Regions from separate parts of the Homo sapiens genome. Here region 1 is linked to region 2. Evidence: fine-mapped expression QTL. Tissue or cell type: whole blood. Region 2 holds a variant in brackets; the other region holds the start of a gene. All regions are shown on one strand. Distances are between the middles of the regions.

Region 1 (8,094 bases), 110 kb before region 2:
CGCCCCCAATCCCCACCCTCATCCCTTCCCCCACTTCCCCTACCTCACCCAGCAATAGCCCTCGGCCCCACCCTAGCCCCACCCGGCAAGCCCCACCCTCATCCCTCAACCCACTTATCCTCCTCCCCTACCCCACCCAGCTCCAGCCCTCAGCCCCACCCTGGCCCCGCCCTCTAGCCCTCAACCCCACCCCTTACCCCGCCTCACCGCGGCCCTCACCTCGACTCCGCTGGTCCACGTGGGCGACACGGACATAACCACTCTGACAGCCCAGAGCTGAGAGGCGCCGGGACGTGCCGGGGAAGTTGTGGACGTCCAGCCAGAGGACGCTGGCGGGCGGGTGGATGGACAGGACGGACGGCCATTGCTGGGCCCAGCCCCGCCCCTCTGCCTCCCCAGGGGCAGCCGCCCCTCCCTGTAGCCCTGGGACCCTGCTGCTTGATTCCTCCTGGATAATCCCCACCGCCCAATTCCTCTGAGGTCAATTCTCACCACCCGAGGGCTGAGTCCACCTCTTGTTTTTTCTGGGGTCACCCCTGCTGATCAATTTCTCTGAAGTCATGCCGTGGACTGATTTTTCTGAGCTCCTCCCCGGTGACCAATTTCTCTAAGGTCTCACCGCCCGATTTCTCTGATGTCAGTGCCCCGGTCCCCAGTGGCCTCTTTCGGGGCCTCTCCTACCTACTGGTCAGGTTCGTCAGCTCTGGGAAGAGGTTTTCCACGGGCTGTTCCTCAAACTGATGCAGCCCCTCGTTCTGGGGAAACCAAGACCCACCCCACCCCCGCTTAAGTCAGCCGTCAGCTTCACACATATACCCACCCAGCGCCAGCCCACAGTGAATCCCACAGGGCTCTGCCCAGCACGCCGCCCCACCTCACCTCCTTGTAGAGATGAATGGCCGGGTCGTTCCCACTCAAGAGAAACACAGTCTCAAGTTGATCCCCGACCTGGACCCTGAAAGCAGAGAAATCTAGAACCCAAGGTAGTGGAATCCACATGGTCTGAGAACCAGAACTCTCCTCTTGCAAAAACCCCTGCCTGTTGAGAACCTTAACATTCTGGGATCCAGACACTAGACCCAGGGTTAGAATCTCAGGGCTCAAGCTCCTGAGTACTGTATCTCCTTGAAATACATAACTGTAGAAACGAGCCCTCATAGAATCTCAAAATCAAGGAATGTACCTCCCAATCTCAGAATTGCGGGAACATGGCTTGCTAGAACCTCCCGCTCTTAGAGCCCGCATCTACTCCTACCTTCACTCTGTGGATTCAGGAATCGAATGTGGAACTCTAGAATGAACTGCAGAACCTTAGAAAGCTAGGACCTCTTCATTCTGAAACCCTGGTATTCTAGAAGTGCTGTTTTCTGTCTCCTTAAAAATACAAGAACTTCTAGAATTTGCCATCATAGATTTCAGATTCACGGAATGATAGAATATCCAAATCCTAGCAAGGAGAACATTAGTGCAATTAGAATCTTCAGTTTTGGGGACTCTCACCTGTTAGACCAGAGGTTGGCCAAGTTATGACCTGCAGACCAAATCCAACCCACCATCTGTTTTTGTAAATAAAGTTTTATTGGAACATAGCCACATCCATTCATTTATAGTGTCAATGGCTGCTTTCTGGCTACAATGGCAAAGTGAGTAGTTGTGACAGACTGGCCCTCAAAGCCTAATATTTACTATCTGGATCTCTACCAAAAAAAGTTTGCCAATCCCTGTTCTAGACCATCTGTGTTCTGGAATGGAATCTGGAACTCTAGAATGGAACCCACACACTTTGGGGTTCTAGCACCTTGGTATTCTAGATGCTCTATGTTCTATCTCCTCGAAAGATGAGAATGTCAGGACTTTATCATTACAGAACCTCAGAAGATTCTGGCTTCTATCGTACTGTAGAATATTCAAATGTTGGAATCTTAGAGCCTACGACTCTAGAAAACTTAGCATCTCTGATCTTGGAATGTCAGACTCTAGAACATTAGAATCTGGGAATTCTAGATGTGCAGAATTCCCAGAATTCACAGGTGCTCCATCAACTCTCTCAGATTATCTAGTTCAGGAATGGCAGTGTGGTGGCCCCTTGGCCATCCGGTCCATGGCCACCTTAAAAGCATGATGCTCCGGCCAGGCGTGGTGGCTCACGCCTGTAATCCCAGCACTTTGGGAGGCCAAGGCGGGCGGATCACCTGAGGTCAGGAGTTCGAGACTAGCCTGGCCAACATGGCAAAAACCTATCTATACTAAAAATACAAAAATTAGCCGGGCATGGTGGTGTGAGCCTGTAATCCTAGCTACTCAGGAGGCTGAGGCAGTAGAATCACTTGAACCAGGGAGGTAGAGGTTGCAGAGATCGAGCCACTGCACTCCAGCCTGGCAACAGAGCGAGCATCTATCTCAAAAAAAAAAAAAAAGAAAGAAAAAAAAAGTGCAATGCTTTAAAAAACAAATGTAGAATCTGATTGTCTATGGACAAGTTCGTGGTCTCCAGTTAGCTACAGCTTTCCAACCTCAGCTGCATATGTGTGTGTGCACATGTGCTCCCTGTTATATTACATTTGTGCTTTCCATTCTCACATGACCTCTCTGGTCCCCAAAGGCATTTTAGTTTAATTTCATTTTATTTTATTTATTTATTTTTGAGACAGAGTTTCGCTCTTGTCACCCAGGTTGGAGTGCTGTGGTGCAATCTTGGCTCACTGCAACCTCCGCCTCCCGGGTTCAAGTGATTCTCCTGCCTCAGCCTCCTGAGTAGGCTGGGATTACAGGCACACACCACCATGCCCAGCTAATTTTTGTATTTTTAGTAGAGACGGGGTTTCGCCATGTTGGCCAGGCTGGTCTCAAACTCCTGACCTCAGGTGATCCGTCTGCCTCAGCCTCTCAAAGTGCTGGGATTACAGGTGTGAGCCACCGTGCCCGGCTGGCATTTTAGTTTTCAATCCCTAATCTAGTACAACCTCTTTATTTTCCAGAAGGGGAAACAGACTACAGGGGTCTGTAAGTAAAGAAGGGGTTCGAGAAGCCAGGGTTTCTACATTTACAGTGGAGTGGGCGTCGATGCGCAGGGGACACTCACTCCGCATGGCACAGCTGGAACGGAGTGAACTGGAGCTCCAGGTTCAGGCAGCTCTCTGTAGGCAGGGCACAGGCAGGTTAGCATGGGGGACCTGCTGGGGACTCTCTCCCTCCTCCCGTCCACGCCTCACTCACGGGCAATAGAGTCAAGGTTGTACTCAGAGCCGGGCTCGTAGTCGCAGTAAATGTTCAGGAAGGGGCTGCCCTTGTCCCCTGAATCCTGGCGGAGGACACGGGGTTCAGGGGAGGGCAGGGGTGGCAGGAGGGATCCGGGGCGGCTCAGTGGAACTCACCATGTGTGTAAGGAGGAGGGCGAAGGGAGGTGGAGGGGGCTCTAGGTACCTTGATGAACGTGATCCCCACAACCAGACCCCGCTTGGGGGGTGACTTGTTGAAAGTGTCGATGGAGACAATCTCCGCATCCACTGGGAGGGGAGAGTTCTAAGTTCAGTGTCAGGCAGACTCATGCTTCCAATCTCCCCAACATGGTGAGCTCTGGCTACCGCAATGATCATGCCCTCTGGTCTGAGTCCTGACCACCATCACCTGATCTCTGTTCCCTGGGTACTAGGGATCCTGACCTGTAAGTCTGAAGAATCCTGAAACCCTAGGCTCATCCGGGCCCCAACTATGCCTGCCCGCTGATCCCAGTGACCCCCTTAAAACCACCTGATCCCATTCTTCCAGCACGGTGACCCGGCTCAGACAGAGCCTCAGAAGCCTTCTCAACACCACGTTCCAGGCCCCCGCCCCCCAGCACCATAGCGCCACCCACCGGGAATGTAGTTGAACTGCAGCTCCTTGGCCACTGGCCGGATTTTCTGTCGGAGGTCTTGGTAGCGGAAGCCGAGCACCTTGCCTTTAAGGGTGGCGGCCAGCAGCTCCCCGCGCCCGCCGGCGCCGCCTGCCAGCCCGTACACATTGCTCTGCGACGAGAAGCGCGTGAAGCTGTCCTCGCGCAACGGACAAGGCCCCGCGGCCACGGCCGCCTCCCCCATCATGCCCCTCAGTTAAGCACCCTCTCCGCAGCCCCCGCCCCAACCCGCACTACCCAACCTACGACTCTCTAAGCGACCTGAACCGCCGGGTGCCCGGCCGTTGCGCGGGCTGATGACGTACGGAAGCTGCCGGCGTTGCCCTCTCCCAAGATGGCGGCCAGGTCGCCTGCTCGGGCCTCCCAGGCGACTTTGCCCCACTGCGCCCGCGCTCTCTTCTCCTTTCCATTTCTGGACCAAGGGGCTGCCATAAGGAGTCTGTGACTAGAGATGGGAGGTGGTGGCCACGGCCTCTCGCTGTATGCTGTGTGGAAGGTCGAATCATCATCATCATAAAACTTAATATTGCCCTTATGTGCCAGGAACTACTGTAAGTGCATTCCATCTAATACTTTATTAAAAATTCGCAAGGGGGTGGAGGTAGGTACTTAAATCCATTTTAGAGATGAAGGAATTGAGGCACAGAGGGGTAAAGTAACTTGCCTAAGATCACACAGCTAGTAACGAGCGGTCAGTACTGGAAACCAAACAAGGTAACTCCACAGTTCACTATTTTTTTTTTTTTTTTTTTTGAGACGGAGTCTTGCTCTGTCACCCTGGAGTGCAGTGGTGCGATCTCGGCTCACTGCAACCTCTGCCTCCTGGGTTCAAGCGATTCTCCTGCCTCAGCCTCCCAGCAGCTGGGATTACAGGCGCCACCACACCTGGCTAGTTTTTCTATTTTTAGTAGAGATGGGGTTTCGCCATGTTGCCCAGGCTGGTCTGGACCTCCTGACCTCAGGTGATCCGCCCACCTCGGCCTCCCAAAGTGCTAGGATTATAGGCGTGAGCCCCCTTGCCCGGCCTATAGTTCATAATCTTAACAGTATCACCTTTAAAATAATTAATACATTCTTCTTGCCCCCAAGGAAAAATGATCCAGCTATAATAACCACCTCCTTTATCGAACACCTACTTGGTGACAGTCATGCTGGCTCTGATAATCTGATTCCTTACAACTGTTCTGCAAGGGCCTACTGTTACCCTCCCTGCCGGTTCACTTATTCAGGATTCATTGAGCTTTTACTATGTGCCCGGACGTCCTTTGCAAATCTGTCTCACTAATCTTTGCAAGAAAGAAACCTCTACAAAGAGGTTTATTATCCCAGTTTAGAGAGAATCAAATGGAGGCTCAGAAAGAGTAAGTCCACTGACTGATATGCTAGCAAGTGGTGGGGACAGGATGTAAACCAGGTGTTTCCGACTCTGGGGCCTTCAGGGGTTCCTGTCTGTGCTGCTTTGTCCCTAGAAGGCCATGGAGGTTTGGGTACTATGTGCACATCTGTGTATCATTTCCAGAAGACATGGGTTGGCCAGCTGTCCTGGACACCTCGAGCACACACAGACTGCAAGCTCCATGAAGGCAGCAGGCTGATCTCCCTTGATCACGGCCTTATCGCCTGTACCTGGAACACAAGGCCTGACACAAAGCAGGCATTCAGAAAATATGTGTCAAAAATCACAAACTATGTGCTGAGCATGTAAGAGACAGCTCTTACATGATGGAAAGTTCTCAAAGGCAGACTGGATAACGGAGGTGGCAAGGAATTTGTGATGATTCCAGATTTCTGGATGTGGAGAGTAGAAGTTCCTGGAGGGCAGTCTGGGAATGCCGTCAGTGCTGCTGTATTCCCAGGGCCTGGCATGCAGCAGGTGCTTAGTGAATATTCGCTGAGGGAGTGGCACGTGGGTCTAGTGCCACTTCAGCAGTGCGTTTCCTTCAGGCGTCTTCCCGCCCTAGTAACCTATAAGCCACATGTTGAGCGGATGAATGAAAAAATGAAGTTACAGGTTAGGAAGGAATCATCCTGTTAAGAGGTTTCCAATCCTAGCTGCACACTTGAACTGCCTATGAAGTTTTAACAAAACAAACCAAAACAGGCCGGGCCTGGTGGCTCATGCCTGTAATTCCAGAACTTTGGAAGCTGAGGCAGGCGGATCAACTGAGGTCAGGAGTTTGAGACCAGCCTGGCCAACATGGTGAAACGCTGTCTCTGCTAAAAATACAAAAATTAGCTGGGCGTGGTGGCGCACGCTTGTAATCCCAGCTACTCGGGAGACTGAGGCAGGAGAATCGCTTGAACCCGGGAGGCAGAGGTTGCAGTGAACCAAGATCGCACCACTGCACTCCAGCCTGGGCGATAGAGCGAGACTCTGTCTCAAAAAAAAAACAAACCCAAAAACCCCCAAAGGGTAGGAAACCTCAGTCAAACCACAATTTATCAGAGTGCGGCCCCAGTCTGGATACTTTTATTTTTGCACCATCATGCCTAATTTTTGTATTTCTAGCAGAGACAGGGTTTTGCCATGTTGGCTAGGCTGCTCTCGAACTCTTGACCTCAAGTGATCCGCCTGCCTCGGCCTCCCAAAGTGCTACGATTACAGGCATGAGCCACAGCACCCAGCCCCAAGTCTGGATACTTTTAATGACTTTAAAGCATAGCCAGGGCGGACCATCACTGATTTAGGTCATGGATGACAGAAACAGATTCTCACACTATCCTTCAGCCAGCACCCATGATGGGGGCAGACATGGTAATCAATTTCAGGTCTCAGAAGTCTTTGCTGCCATTATCAGTGGACTGGAGCTGTGGGAGAAGCTGCAGGGGAGAGAGGAGCAGGGCAGGTGTCAAGGAATTTGAACCTCACCTGCACTTCTCTAGGCTTTCTGGGCTGGAGCCCCTCTCCCAGGAGTCCACCCTGGTTTCCTAGGCAGCCCCTCCTCTGTGCAATTACTGCCCCTGCTCACTTCCTGACATTTTCCCATCATGCCTGGGCACTGAGCCTCCTTCAGCTGTCTCCTCTGTAGCGAGGGGCCCTGCGCGGGGCAGGGTAAAGCACATGTGTACCAGACAGGGCCCCCAACATGCACATTGTGGAGTGTGGTGGAGGCAGCTGGTTTCTGCCCACCTTTCCTGGGCAAAGGCTCCTGCTATCTCCTCCCCCACTCCCCAGACCCACTCGGGCCTCAGACTCTGCCCACCAAAGCCGCTTCCTCCCCCGTCCTGTGACAGATGGAACAACTGTCACCGGGGCGTTCAGCCTTCCTGCCAGAGAAATGTGGACATGGGAGATTCGGTGGGCTTCCACCCATTCTCATCCAAAGCAGTCATGAGGACCGTCACATTCGACCCTCCCACTGGCTCTGAGGGGTGGCATCACCACCGTGCATCCCAGTTGAGGAAATCAAGGCCCCTGGACCCCAAGAACCCAGAGAAAGATCAAGATGGGCGCTCTGGGACTCCCAAGCCAGAGCTCCTCCCCAGGCCCACCGTCCCTGGGTCTCCCCCACCTAGAAACTGACCCAGCCCACACGTGTTTCAAGGATGCATGCGCCTGACCTCCCAAGAGCTCGCCCAGAGTCTGGGGGACCAGGAGTGTGAGAGGGACTGGTGACTGGCCCAGGGGCAGAGTGGGTAGCAGAGGTGAGGAGGAAGAGAGACTCATGCAAAAGTGTTGTTTTTTATTTTCTTTCTTGGGCCAGCTGCAGCTTCCAACCAAGAAAACCTCAAAGCATTAGGGAAGGAGCAGGTGTGGGGCTGGGGTGGGGAGAATCCCCTAAGCTCCAGGGCCCAGGGTCTAACCTGAGAGGTCGGGGCTGCAGGAAGCTGGGGGAGGCTCCCGGGGCTGGGGGAAGAGGAGCCTGCCCCCAGCAGAAACAGCAGGTCTCAGCGGCTACATGTGCTTTAGAGCTTGGCTGGGGGACAAAAGTGGGAGAGAGAGAGAAACCGGCCTCATGACTCAGCTGGTCAGGAGATAGGGGGCCAGATGCTGACCCCAAATCCCCGGCAGCACCCCTAGCAAATAGGTCTGTATCAAAGATTCTGTACAGCTGGTTTTGGGGGTGAAGGGCACCTATGGGGGCTTAAATAAATGGACAGGGGGCAAGGGATGTAGCGAGAACAGAGGGTGACTGTCCGGCCAGCAGCCTGGGCCTCTGGCGCCCCTGCATGCTGACCCCCGGTGCCACCTGCCCACT
Region 2 (8,102 bases):
GTCTCAAAATAAAGAAATAAAGAAATGGAAATAAAAATAATAAAGTGGGGATGAGGATAACACCTACTTGTAAGGTTGTTTCTTGAGGGGATCCAGAAAGTAACCATATCTGAAGAACTCAGGACTGTCCTGGGTTGTGTAATTGACTGGAATAAATGGCGGATGGGATGGTGTTGGGAAATTGATTCCGACTGATGGGCAAGGTTTGTGCTCAGCACATCCCTGGTCTCACACCAATCCTAGGAGTTAGTCCCATTTTTCTGACGCAGTAGTTGAGGCTTAAAGAAGTTCAGTCACATGCCCAAGGCCACAGTTCCTGAAAAGCTGGGCCAAGACTTGAACTGAGATCTTTCTGATTCCTAAGTTTCTCTTTCCTATTGTAAGCACCGGCTTTCTCCCTGGTCTCCCTGCTTGCCCTCTTATTCCCCCTCCGATCTTTTCTTCCCATGTCAGCCAAAGGGATTCCAGGAAAGGGCAAAGATGATTAAGTTTTTTCCTTCCTAAGATCCTTCGGCCATGTGACTTGATGCAATGTATGATCCTGTGTTGAATCCTGGGCTGGGGAAAACATTGCTATAAAGGATTTTATTGAGACAAACAGATTTGAATTTGTGGATTAAACAATTGTATTATTGTATCAACGTTTCATTTCCTGTTTCTGATTCTTGTTCTGGATTTTTTAAAGAGCATGTCTTTGTTTTTAGTAACGTCATGCTGAAGGATTTAGGGATCAAGGGACACGACGTCTTCCACTGCCTCTCAAATGTTCAGAAAAGAAACATACAGCAGAGGTGGCCAAATGTTACTGACTTGCGAATCCAGGAAAGATCTACTTACCTTTCTTGCTAGTTTTCTGTAAGCTTGAAATTATTGCTGGTAAAAAACAAAACAACAACAAAGCAAACCTTCATTCCACTCCTAGGTAGATATCCAAGAGAAATGAAAACATATATTGACACAAAAAACCTGTTATGGGTGGGTGTGGTGGCTCACACCTGTAAGCCCAGCACTTTGGGAGGCTGAGGCTGGTCAATCAGTTGACATCAAGAGTTTGAGACCAGATGGCCAACATGGTGAAACCCTGTCTGTACTAAAAATACAAAAAATAAAAATTAGCCAGGTGTGGTTGCGGGCGCCTGTAATCCCAGCTACTCGTGAGACTGAGGCAGGAGAATCACTTGAACCCAGGAGGTGGAGGTTGCAGTGAGCCGAGATTGCACCACTGCACTCCAGCCTAGGAGACAGAGCGAGACTCCGTCTCAAAATAAATATAAATAAATAAAAAAATAGGTGTTCAAACAATAACTTGTACATAAATGTCCATAGCAACACTATTCACAACAGCCAAAACAACACTATTCGCAACAGCCAAAAGAGAGAAACGTCCATCAACAAGTGAACTGATAAGTGAAATGTGGTCTATCCATACAATGGAATGTTATTCAGCCATAAAAAGGAATGAAGTACTTACTGATACTTTTTTTTTCTTTTTTTTTTTTTTTTGAGATGGAATTTCCCTCTTGTTGCCCAGGCTGGAGTGTAATGGCACGATCTCGGCTCACTGCAACCTCCGCCTCCTGGGTTCAAGCAATTCTCCTGCCTCAGCCTCCCGAGTAGCTGGGATTACAGGCATGCGCCACCACACCAGGCTAATTTTGTATTTGTAGTAGAGATGGTGTTTCCCCATGTTGGTCAGACTGGTCTCGAACTGACCTGAGGTGATCTGCCCGCCTTGGCCTCCCAAAGTGCTGGGATTACAGGTGTGAGCCACTGCGCCTGGCCAAAGTACTGCTACTTGAATGGATGAACCTTGAGAACATTATGCTAACTGAAGGAAGCCTGTCATAAGGGACTACACACTGTATGACTATTTTTATGAAATATCCAGAACAGACAAGTCCATGGAGACAGAAAGTAGATTGATAGTTGCCCAGACCTGGGGGACGGGAGATAGGAAGCGACTACTAACGGGCCAGCGGTTTTGTGCTGGGATACTGAGATGTTCTGAAGCTACATAGTGATGATGTTTGCACAGCACTGGGAATATATGAAAAACCATTGAATTATACATTTTAAAATGATGAATTTTGAGCCAGGTACAGTGGTGTGTGCTTGTAATCCCAGCTACTTTGGAGGCTGAGGCTGGAAGACGGCCGGAGCCCAGGAATTCAAGACCAGTCTGGGCAACATAGCAAGATCCTGTCTCTACTAAAAAAAATTAAAAATTGGCTGGGCGCAGTAGCTCACGCCTGTAATCCCAGCACTTTGGGAGGCCAAGCGGGGCCAGCCTGACCAACATGGAGAAACCCCATCTCTACTAAAAATACAAAATTAGCCGAGCATGGTGGTGCATGCCTGTAATCCCAGTTACTCGGGAGGCTGAGGCAGGAGAATTGAGAACTTGGGAGCCGGAGGTTGCGGGGAGCCGAGATCATGCCATTGCACTCCAGCCTCGGCAACAAGAGCGAAACTCTGTCCCCCAAAAAATAAATAAATAAATAAGGAGTTTTATGGTAGGCAAATTATATCAGAATTTTTCTTTTTTTTTTTTTTGAGACTGAGTCTTGCTCTGTTGCCCAGGTTGAAGGGCAGTGGTGTGATCTCAGTCACCAAAACTTCTGTCTCCTGGGTTAAAGTGATTCTCCTGCCTCAGCCTCCCAAGTAGCTGGAACTACAGGCACCCACTACCATGCCCAGCTAATATTTTGTGTTTTTAGTAGAGATGGGGCTTCACTATGTTGGCCAGGCTGGTCTCAAACTCCTGACCTCAGGTGATCCTCCCTCCTCGGCCTCCCAAATTGCTGGGATTACAAGCATGAGCCACCGCACATGGCCGAATTATGTAACAATTAAAAAAAACAGCAAACACTTTAATGACTGTAGATTACCTCTGGGGTCAAACCCCAAATCCCTGGTGTACCTGCAAGTCTGCCCTGTCCCTCAGACCATCTCAGCCAAACTGCTGACTTTCTAGCCACCTGCCTTTCCTCCTTCCCCAGTGCTAGGCCTTTGCATCTCCTCTTCCCTTCCACCCTCATCTGACAACTCTATTCATCTCACAAGTCTTAGCTGACTGGCCAGGAGCGGAGGCTCACACCTGTAATTCCAACACTTCAGGAGGCCAAGACCAGAGGGTTGCTTGAGCCCAGGAGTTCAAGACCAGCCTGGGCAACATGGTGAAACCCCATCTCTACAAAACATACAAAAAACTTAGCCAGGTATGGTGGCACGCATCTGTAGTCCCAGTTATTCGGGAGGCTGAAGTGGGAGGATCACCTAAGCCCAGGAAGTCAAGGCTGCAGTGAGCCATGATCATACCACTACACTCCAGCCTGGGCGACAGACTGGGACTCTGTCTCAAAATTAAAATTAAAATTAAATTAGGCCAGGTGTGATGGCTCATGTCTGTAATCTCAGCACTTTGGGAGGCCAAAGTGGTCAGTTCACTTGAGGTCAGGAGTTCAAGACCAGCCTGGCCAACATGGTCTCTACTAAAGATACAAAAATTAGCTGGGCGTTGTGGCAGGCACCTGTAATCCCAGCTACTCGGGAGACTGAGGCAGGAGAATGGTGTGAACCCGAGAGGTGGAGTTTGCAGTGAGCCGAGATAGCGCCACTGCACTCCAGCCTGGGCAACAGAGCGAGACTCCGTCTCAAAAAAAAAAAAAAAAAAAATTAAACAACCTGGAGCTTGAGATCGGCACTGGAAGTAGGGAACAGGCTTGGCTCAGTGGCTTACACCTGTAATCCCATCCCAGCACTTTGGGAGGCCAAGGGGGACGGATCATTTGAGCTTCAGAGTTCAAGACCAGCTTGGCCAAAATGGTGAAACTGTCTCTACTAAAAATACAAAAAATTAGCCAGGTGTGGTGGTGGGTGCCTGTAATCCCAGCTACTTGGGAGGGAGGCTGAGGCATGAGAATCACTTGAACCCCGGAGGCGGAGGTTGCAGTGAGCAGAAATCACACCACTGCACTCCAGCCTGGGTGACACAGGGAGACTCCATCTCAAAAAAAAAAAAAAAAAAAAAAGAGCTC[A/G]GTAACTCAGGCCTATAATCCCAGCACTTTGGGAGGCCAAGGCGGGCAGATGACCTGGGGTCAAGAGTTCCAGACCAGCCTGGCCAACATGGCGAAACCCCATCTCTACTAAAAATACAAAAATGACTTGGTCGTGGTGGCGGGCGCCTGTAATCCCAGCTACCTGGGAGACTGAGGCAGAAGAATCGCTTGAACCCGGGAGGCAGAGGTTGCTGTGAGCTGAGATTGTGCCATAGCACTCCAGCCTGGGCAACTCTTTTGAGACAGAGCGAGACTCTGTCTCAAAAAAAAAAAAGAAGTGGGGGGCAATCTTGTGGGACTCAGCCTTCAACCTGTGGGATCTGATGCTGTCTCCAGGTAGATAGTGTCAGAAGTGAATTGAATTGGAGGACAGGCTGGTGTCCCCTGGGGGGAGAAGATCCCCCTCATATCTAGTGACAGAGCGTGTTGTGAGTGTGTCGTGGGACAAACTGTTTGTGTATTCCTCTATTCTCAGAATTCCCTGCACTGTCTTTTCCTAACAATTCCTCTTTATCCTCCTCCTCCTCCAGGAAGCCTTCCCAAACCCCAGGCTGGGTCAGGTGCCTGCTCTGAGCTCCCACATCCCCAGGACTCACTCCCCCTATCCACTTTAGGGAGAAGTCTGTAACCTCCACAGACCCGAGAGTTCCACGAGGTAGACCCCAGGGTCTCCCAGTAACCGCCACAGAGCAGATACCGACAAACACTCATTGCATTGACCTAACCTCACTCCACCACCATCTCCCCAGACCTCTCGGTTCTTGCCTTCCACCAGCCCCTCACCAACCATTTTTGGCTCTTCTCCTTGCCTATGCTGCTGCCATATGTATGATTTTTTATTTTACTTAATTTAATTTAATTTATTTATTTAAGGTGGAGTCTTACTCTGTCACCTAGGCTGGAATGCAGTGGGGCCATCTTGGCTCACTGCAACCTTCACCTCCCAGGTTCAAGCGATTCTCCTGCCTCAGCCTCCCCAATAGCTGAGACTACAGGCACACACCACCACACCCAGCTAATTTTTTTCTCTCTCTTTTTTTTTTTTTTGTTGTTGTTGAGACGGAGTCTTGCTCTGTTGCCCACACTGGAGTGCAGTGGTGTGATCTCGGCTCACTGCAAGCTCCACCTCCCGGGTTCACACCATTCTCCTGCCTCAGCCTCCCAAGTAGCTGGGACTACAGGCGCCTGCCACCACGCCCGGCTAATTTTGTTTTATATTTTTAGTAGAGACGGGGTTTCACTGTGTTAGCAAGTATGGTCTCGATCTCCTGACCTCGTGATCCGCCCACCTCAGCCTCCCAAAGTGCTGGGATTACAGGAGTGAGACACCGTGCCCAGCCACGCCCAGCTATTTTTTTTTTTTTTTTTTTTGTATTTTTAGTAGAGACGGGATTTTGCCATGTTGTCCAGGCTGATCTCGAACTCCTGATCTCAAGTGATCCACCTGTCTCAGCATCCCAAAGTGCTGGGATTATAGGTGTGAGCCACCGTGCCTGGTCTGTATTATTTTTTATTTTTATTTATTTAATTATTATTATTTGTTTTTGAGATGAAGTTTCACTCTTGTTACCCAGGCTGGAGTGCAATGGTGTGATCTTGGCTCACCACAACCTTCGCCTCCCAGGTTCAAGCAGTTCTCCTGCCTCAGCCTCCCAAGTAGCTGGGATTACAGGGATGCACTACCACGATCGGCTAATTTTGTATTTTTAGTAGAGATGGGGTTTCATCATGTGGGTCAGGGTGGTATCCAACTCCTGACTTCAGGTGATCCACCCACCTCGGCCTCCCAAAGTGCTGGGATTACAGGTGTGAGCCATCACACCCAGCCTTATTTCCCACGCCGAGACAGAGTCTTGCTCTGTCGCCCAGGCTAGAGTGCAGTGGCAACATCTCGACTCACTGCAAACTCCGCCTCCCGGGTTCAAGCAATTCTCCTGCCTCAGCCTCCCGAGGAGCTGGGATTGCAGGCATGTGCTACCAGGCCCAGCTAATTTTTGTGTTTTTAGTAGAGACGGGGTTTCACCATGTTGGCCAGGCTGGTCTCGAACTCCTGACCCCGTGATCTGCCTGCCTCTGCCATCCAAAGTGCTGGGATAACAGGCGTGAGCTACTGAGCCCAATCAATTTTTAAAAATCATATATACTCAACACCTTTGCTTTTAAAAAACCCTTAAGCATTTTTTAAAATACAATTTTGTTTTATTTCAGATGGAGTCTTGCTGTTGTCGGCCTGGGCTGGAGTGCAATGGCGCGATCTCAGCTCACTGCAACCTCTGCCTCCTGGGTTCCAGCAATTCTCCTGCCTCACCCTCCCGAGTAGCTGAGATTACAGGCGCCTGCCACCACACCCGGCTAATTTTTGCATTTTTAGTAGAGACAGGGTTTCACCATGTTGGCCAGGCTGGTCTTGAACTCCTGACCTCAGGCGATCCACTCACCTTGGCCTCCCAAAGGGCTGGGATTCCAACTATGAGCCACCGAGCCCGGCCTATTTTTTCCTCTTTTGATCGTGATGATTCTAGTGGGTGTGAGGTTGTATCTCATTGTGGTTTTGACTTCCATTTCCCTAATACTGATGACTGAGCATCCTTTCCTGTGTTTCTTGGCCATTTCCTCACCACCTTCTGCAAGCTGACCTCAGCCCTCACCACCTCACTGAACCATCATTTCCACCTTCACCAGTCCAGTGGTTTATCTTAATTTCCCTTCTTTTCTCTCTCAGCAACTTTGGACACTTCCTCCCTCGCCAGCCATTCTTGGTCTTCGTCTTCCTTTTCTGGAGAGAAATGTAAGAACTTAGGCCAGTTAGTTAACTTCTCTGTGCCTCGGTTCTTCATCTGTGAAATGAAGATGACAACAGCTCCTACTTCAAGGTTGCTGTGAAGATTCCATCAGCTAATGTATGTAAAGGGCTCAGAAGTGTTGGGAGGCCTTGGCCAGGCGCGGTGGCTCACGCCTGTAATTCCAGCACTTTGGGAGGCCGAGGCGGGTGGATCACGAGGTCAGGAGTTCAAGACCAGCCTGGCCAAGATGGTGAAACCCTGTCTCTACTAAAAATACAAAAAATTAGCCGGGTGTGGCAGCGGGCGCCTGTAATCCCAGCTACTCGGGAGGCTGAGGCAGAGAATTGCTTGAACCTGGGAGGTGCAGGTTGCAGTGATCGAAGATCGTGCCACTGCACTCCAGCCTTGGCAACAGACCAAGACTCCGTCTCAAAAAAAAAGAAGTGTTGGAAGGCCCAGGCAGGCGCATCATTGGAGCCCAGGAGTTTGAGTCCAGTCTGGGCAACATGGTGAAACCCTGTCTCTACAAAAAATACAAAAATTAGTCAGGTGTGGTGGTGTGTGCCTTTATTCCCAGCTAGCCAGGAGGCTGAGGTAGGAGGATTGCTTGAGGCCAAGGGGTTGAGGCTGCAGTGAACTATGATTGCCTGTAGTCCCAGCTACTCGGGAGACTGAGGCAGGAGAATTGATGGAACCTGGGAGGTGGAGGTTGCAGTGAGCTGAGATCGCGCCACTGCACTCCAGCCTGGGTGACAGACGGAGACTCTGTCTCAAAAAAATAAATAAATAGGCCAGGCGTGGTGGCTCACGCCTGTAATGCCAGCACTTTAGGAGGCTGAGTTGGGGAGATCACAAGGTCAGAAGATCGAGACCATCCTGGCCAACATGGTGAAACCCTGTCTCTACCGAAAATACAAAAATTAGGTGGGTGTGGTGGCTCATGCCTGTAGTCCCAGCTACTCTGGAAGCTGAGGCAGGAGAATTGCTTGAACCCAGGAGGCGGAGGTTGCAGTGAGCCAAGGTTGCGTCACTGCACTCCAGCATGGCGACAGTGAGACTCTGTCTCAAAATAATAAAAATAAATAAATAAATATAATTTTAGGAAAAGTCACCAGAAATTCAAAACAAAAACAAACTCCGTTGCAGAAATCGGATGTGAAAATTGTTCACTTTCATTCAGAATCTGCGGGTCGGCCAGGCGCAGTGGCTCATGCCTGTAATCCCAGCACTTTGGGAGGCTAAGGCAGGCGGATCATGAGGT

What was found. PIP is the estimated chance that this variant, and not a neighbour inherited with it, causes the effect.
Region 1: it holds the start of KPTN, and the variant in region 2 is fine-mapped to the expression of KPTN in whole blood (TOPMed, PIP above 0.99).

The regions. Positions count from the first base shown.
Region 1 is chr19:47,480,079-47,488,172 of GRCh38, forward strand. KPTN (kaptin, actin binding protein) reads right to left here and starts at 4,141. Exons shown (of 12, transcript NM_007059.4): 1 at 3,857-4,141; 2 at 3,424-3,506; 3 at 3,217-3,301; 4 at 3,083-3,137; 5 at 880-955; 6 at 682-755; 7 at 220-329. The coding sequence starts at 4,082. NAPA (NSF attachment protein alpha) reads right to left here. Exons shown (of 11, transcript NM_003827.4): 11 at 7,559-8,094. NAPA-AS1 (NAPA antisense RNA 1) reads left to right here and starts at 4,204. Exons shown (of 4, transcript NR_038452.1): 1 at 4,204-4,446. RefSeq lists enhancers at 4,066-4,355, 4,386-4,515.
Region 2 is chr19:47,589,457-47,597,558 of GRCh38, forward strand. No RefSeq gene overlaps it. Among named protein-coding and RNA genes, the nearest start is that of BICRA-AS2, 15 kb to the right of the region's middle. The variant A/G (reference allele first, on the strand shown) is at 4,038.